2 separate regions of the Homo sapiens genome follow, and region 1 is linked to region 2. The links come from fine-mapping of genetic effects on gene expression. A gene starts in region 2. The other region holds a variant in brackets. All regions are shown on one strand. Distances are between the middles of the regions.

Region 1 (2,891 bases), 41 kb after region 2:
CTGCAACCCTTTGTCCTACCCCAGCTTTGAGCCTCAGTTTGTCAGACTGAAGACCTGGACTCAAAAGTTCCAATCGGTCCCCCTGGGGGGTTGCCCAGTTCCCGCCAGCCACTCGAGGGTTAAATGGCACTGGTGACCCCGGTGCAACGTGCAGGCGCCCGGCTCCGCTCTTCTGGGCTCTGGAGGAGGCTCTCCGGCTCAGTAGGCTCCTCGGCGGCTCAGTGCTGCTGCCCCTGGGGCGTGAGAAGCCCGCGGGGGGAGTTTCTCAGAGAAAGAGGGAGACTAAAAATAGCCCCGGGGAGCGGGCCCATTTCGCTCTCCTTCGGCCCCTGCCGGCTCCCTCACTCTGGCCTCGGAGAGGGCTGTGGGCCGGAAGGGTCCCTTTCTTGGGCTGTCCCAGTGTCCTTCGATCAGACCCAACCAGACTCCTTTTCTCTCCCAGTGGCTCCGTGGACCCTGGGACCGAAAAAAACGGACCAGTTGGTGACTTCCGAGCCAGCAGACACCCAGGAGGGAGAGCAGAAAAGCCTCAGGCCCTCTTCTGTTCCTAGTTTCTGACAGGGCGAAGGGCAAGGAGCATGTGCCCAGACCCCAGTGTGTCCGTTACTATCTCTTTTAACTCTCCTCTACCTTCTGGAAAGTGGAATTATAAATGTGGGACCTGGGGAGGTCGCTGGTGGTCCACAAGGTGAAGGAAGGGCGCGCCCCTTCTGGGCCCCAGGCAGTTTCCCGGCGGAAACCCTTTCTGGCCGCCGGGTGTGTGTCGTAGAAAGGCTGGGGGAGAGCCGGCAGCACCTGCAGGCTCCAGGCGTGCCCGGCCTCAGCGGAATGGCCAGCGGGCCGGGTCCCCAGGGGGCGTCCAGCTCCTTGAGGCGGGGATTGTTTCCTCCCGTAGAGCCTCCGGTCTAGTGGCCCCCCCTTCATTGTCTTCTGCCTTATCACTGGGTACAAATTTCCTGCCCAGACCACAGAGATCCTCCAGGAAATGGGAAGGGGGATGCTGCGAAGGCCAAGTAACAGAGGTGGGGGTTCTGTACGGCGCAGCCGGGAAGCGGTGGGGGAGGCTTGCATCCTGGCCGGATCGGCTCCCAGCCCTTAGAGGCCTTCAGCCTGGCTCTCCTAGGGCGAGGGTGGAGAGCGGGGCCTGGCTGCGGCCTCTTCCCGCGGCGTTGGCCGCCTGCTCGCCACGCGGAGGTGGCGTCTTCCGCTCCGAGGCAGAGGGCCGAGGCCTGGAGGGAGTAGGGCCCGGGACTGGAGCGGCGATCATCCTCAGGCCTGGCC[G/A]TGTGCAAGCCCAAGGTTATTCCCCAAAGGGCTTACCAGTTGGCTGCTCTGTTGCCTCCCCGAAGGGCAAAGGATGAGTATTTCTGGACGCCGTGGTGCAAACGATGGCCCCCTCCTTGAAACCAACACCCCGGTCCACCCCCTGAGCGCCGGACACACTCAGGGGAGGCTTCATACTTGTCTAGAGACCGTCGTTCGCGCTGCCCTTAATTCCTTGCCACCCGAGAGTTCTCTGCCCAGATCGCCCGAACCCCAGAAGGGCTCCGAGGAGCTTTCTGGGTTTCAACCCTCCGTTTTCCGAGGGAAGCCCGCCTCTGAGATTGCGCGGGAGGGCGGGGAGCATCGCATTCACTGGGTCAGGCTTGGGCGCTGGGCTGCTCTGCTCTCTCCAGCTCCTGGCAAGCTCAGAAGGAGCCGCAGGGTTAATAGGTAACCAGACGGCCTCCCAAACCCCTCCGCCCTTTGAGAACTCGGGAGTGAGGGACCCTGGCGGCCCGGAGCAGCATCCCTACTCTCCCTCAGGAAAACTAGGGAAGCAAGTGGGCTACGTGGCGCGTACGACAGAAACAGTCGGTCCACCCTTTCTTCTCATATCTTCCCCTCCTCGCTGGAAATCTGCCCCCTCTCTTTGATGCTCAGAAATCTGCGCCTCTGGATACGAATAAATGCATATAAATGTGTCCCCATCCCCGCTACAACTGCAGAGGCTGGCGGTGGAGAGAAGTCGTGATGAAATGGGAAGCAGGACACTGAGCCAGTGGTCCCTGGGCACCCCTTGAGGCCTCCAGGGGCCGGACCCCGCAAGGTTCCTCTTTCCAGTTAAAGCGACTTTCCTCGCTCTCTGGTGAAGCCGCGTAGGGCAGGGTCCGCGGGCGGAGCTGGGAGCCGGTCCTGGGCACTCACGCCTCGCTCTTGTCTCCAGCGCCCCCCTCGCGGGCCCAGCTGCAACTGCACTTGCCCGCCAACCGGTTGCAGGCGGTGGAGGGAGGGGAAGTGGTGCTTCCAGCGTGGTACACCTTGCACGGGGAGGTGTCTTCATCCCAGCCATGGGAGGTGCCCTTTGTGATGTGGTTCTTCAAACAGAAAGAAAAGGAGGATCAGGTGAGGGAAGAACGCCTGTCAGCCAGCGGCAAGTTGCGCCCAGAGGGGGTTGTAAGCAAAGAGCTGGTAGCGGTGGGAGGGGTGGAGAGGGAATGGGGGCCGGGGAAGGAGTTTCAGGGAAAAGCAGAAGTCTTCACCAGTTCAGTTTTTGTTCTGATATTGGAGACTTCCCAAACAATTATCTTTTGCCGGCTTTCCCTAAAAATCCAGCACACAAAATACTGTAAAAGTGTGAGAGGCATTTTACTTGGTTATGAGGGAGGAGAGGAGGAGGGGAAGAATGGAAGTTGAGGACTGGGAAACGCTTAGGGGAAGTAACACACACGACTTATAAAAGTTAGCATATTTCTGGCCTGACTCAGTGACTCATACCTGTAATCCCAGCACTTTGGGAGGCCGAGGTGGGCACATCACTTGAGGCCAAGAGTTCGAGAGCAGCCTGGCCAATATGGTGAAACCCCCGTCTCTGCTAAAAACACAAAAATTAGTCGGACATGGTGGCACCCGCC
Region 2 (2,891 bases):
GCTTAAAAAAAACTAACATACATTTGTTATTTTAAAAAATATTGCATAGTTTATTTGCATTCATTGGTCAGCATCCTCAGTTATGTCTGCTTTGAAAGAAAAATCCGCTGAGGTTTTAAGTTAATGATCCAAGATATCCAATTAAGATTTTCAGCTTTGAAAAATATGGAAATACGGTACAGCTGTGTACTGGATGTGCTGTGCTACTGTTAAGTTCCAGCACTTTAAGGAACGTTTCAGGAGTGACTAATACACTAATTCATTACCAGAGGTCACAGAGCTGTCATAATTGACAGTGTTCTTTGAGTACGAAAAACCGGAAAACGATGCAACTTCCAAAGCACGGAGGATGGAGACTGGTATTGGAAAGTAACTTTTCTGCTGGGCTCAGGAGTTTTTATATGCTCAAGCTATAGACAACTGTACCAACGCAATAGACTAATGTAATCTAACTATTCTACAAACGGCCACACCTACCCAGACTAACTGGAAAACAATAGTTTATAACTGGAATTAAATAGTTGCTGTTCTTTAATTAATGAGATCGGTGTTCTTGAAAAGCTACAGCGTACGAACTCTACCCTGGTCCATATCTGCTTTTTAAAGCCTTCCCCAGAACCGCTCTCACTTCAGCCTTGGTGCCTTCCCGGATATACCCTCCAGAGGCTTCCCCGGTCCCCATCCTGGACGTCAGCCTCTGCACCTAGAGGCCGGCTTAGAGGGAAGACGGGCAGAGGCGGGGGAGACAGGAGAGAGAGAAACGGTCTATTCCTCCTTAACTCCGGGCCCCCTCGAGGGCCTCACCCCTCCTCCCGGGGGCTGAGATTGGAGAGGAAGTGGGAAGGCTCCAATCTGTTCCTCACTCCAGCGCCCTCATGCCCCCACCCTTCTCTTCAGCTCGGGGCTTCGGCGCGCCTCGTCCCCGCCCTTCGCCCCGGGAGAGGAGCGGGCGGCGTGGGAGGGCTCGCGGAGAAAGGCCCAGGGGAGTGGACGACCTCCGCCCGGCAGCCACATCCTCAGCAGCAGAGACCCGGAGCCATCCGCCCGCGGGCGAGCCAGGCCCGAGGGCAGCCCCGGAGACCGCGGTGGCCGGATGCGCGGGCGCGTCACTTCCGGGCGGTGCAGCGGCGGCCGCTTGGAAGATGGCTGCGCCCTGTGGCTCGGAGCTGCCCGCCAACTCGCCGCTAAAAATTCCGAAGATGGAGGTGCTTTCCCCGGCTTCTCCTGGTGGCCTGAGCGACGGAAATCCATCGCTGTCCGACCCTTCCACGCCTCGGGGTGCCTCCCCGCTCGGGCCGGGCAGTGCGGCGGGCTCGGGGGCAGCGGCGTCCGGGGGTCTCGGGCTGGGGCTGGGGGGCCGCAGCGCCGCCTCGTCCTCGGTCTCCTTCTCCCCTGGTGGCGGCGGTGGCGGGGCTGCGGCAGCCGCCGCCGCCGCCTGCCGGGGCATGTCGTGGACGCCAGCCGAGACGAACGCGCTCATCGCAGTGTGGGGCAACGAGCGGCTGGTGGAGGCGCGGTACCAGCAGCTGGAGGGAGCCGGCACGGTGTTCGGCAGCAAGGCCCCCGGGCCAGCCATGTACGAGCGCGTGTCCCGGGCCCTGGCCGAGCTGGGCTACGAGCGGACCCCGTCCCAGTGCCGGGAGCGCATCAAGGTAACCGGCCGCCCGGCCTGGGGCAGCGAACCAGAGGCAGAGAGAAGGCGGGGAAGCGGGCCTCGGGGGCGGGGGCCGGTCTGAGGGCAGGGCTCTCCTCCGGGGCCCGGTGGGCGATTCGCATCTCCTCCGCCTTTTTCTTCTCTCCCTGGGAAGGGGGCTTTTTCCCAGATGGCCGCCAGCCCGTAGGTTTCCTGAGTTTGAAGTTGGGCGTGCCTGCCGCCGCCCCTCTTTCTTGCCAATTGAGATGTTCCTGCGCTCTGAAGTTGGTAGTTTCTCATTGTGCGCCGTGCGGCAGTCCCCGTGCCGCTGGCGCCTCTTGCCCCCACCGCCGGGGCCCCTCGCTTTGTTCCAGGCGGAGGGGCTCCCAGGCAGAGGCTTACCGGCCGGGGCAGGATTGAGGAAGGGCAGAAGGGGGGGGCATTGAGCCCCTAGTTTAGGAATAGTTAATAAGTGGCCGTAGCGGAGCCATAGAAAAAGCGCCTTGGGACGACTGGCCTTTGTGTCAGTCGCTTTGCTTCTATCTTGAGCTACGAAGGACGAGTAAGACTAGAGATGCTTTGGAGAATTGGAAAGGCTTGATTGTAGCCAGATTGTGTATTGTTACCGCGGAGTTAGTGTACACCATAAAAGTTAGCTTGGCCAAGAGTTGGTCTGGAATTTGGATTGTCGATGCCTCCAGAGTTAGATTGGCTTGAGGCCCTGCGGTTTCTTAGGAAGCTCCTTCAGGAAAGCCAGTTTTTCCCTGCTTCAGTTTCTGTGCCGGATGTGGTGACAAGTAGAACTCTCAGTGTGCATCTGGCCGTCCTTGTGTACCTGCATGTTTAAATGCAGAGGCTTAATTTGGGCTAGAAATCTTAGCCAGGTTAAGATTTTGCTACTAGAACTGACTCTAGGCTTTCATATTTGTATTATTGGCAGATAAGGAGTTGTATTTTAGTTAAGCTCATTTCCTCATCGTAGTGGCTGCTAAAAAGATTGTGATAGGATTCTCCCAGTTTTTACTGAACTACTTATCCTATTATCTGTGCACTTCTTTTCTGATACAGCTGGCACTTTTTCTGGGAACTTCTTGAGGGGGGATAAAAACCACCAAGAACAATTATAAAATAAGAATGATCACACTAAAGAGCAATAATAAAGTCTAATAGGCGCAATCATGAGTTAGAGTAAGCTAAAGGAGGGAAATTGCACCAAAGTTCTCCAGGTCTTGGCTCCAGTAGTATTTCTTTGGGGATG

Evidence for each region. PIP is the estimated chance that this variant, and not a neighbour inherited with it, causes the effect. A credible set is the group of variants that fine-mapping cannot tell apart.
Region 1: its variant is the best candidate, but not a certain one, in a credible set for the expression of MSANTD2 in whole blood (TOPMed, PIP 0.51).

Annotation. Positions count from the first base shown.
Region 1 is chr11:124,757,840-124,760,730 of GRCh38, reverse strand. ESAM (endothelial cell adhesion molecule) reads left to right here. Exons shown (of 7, transcript NM_138961.3): 2 at 2,204-2,382. ESAM-AS1 (ESAM antisense RNA 1) reads right to left here and starts at 1,597. Exons shown (of 2, transcript NR_120577.1): 1 at 1,318-1,597. RefSeq lists enhancers at 781-850, 2,344-2,503. The variant G/A (reference allele first, on the strand shown) is at 1,282.
Region 2 is chr11:124,798,632-124,801,522 of GRCh38, reverse strand. MSANTD2 (Myb/SANT DNA binding domain containing 2) reads left to right here and starts at 1,117. Exons shown (of 4, transcript NM_001308027.2): 1 at 1,117-1,652. The coding sequence starts at 1,143. It overlaps MSANTD2-AS1 (MSANTD2 antisense RNA 1), which reads right to left and starts at 1,095. Exons shown (of 5, transcript NR_103862.1): 1 at 267-1,095. RefSeq lists silencers at 765-1,434, 1,475-1,714, 2,115-2,194, 2,425-2,474 and an enhancer at 931-1,538.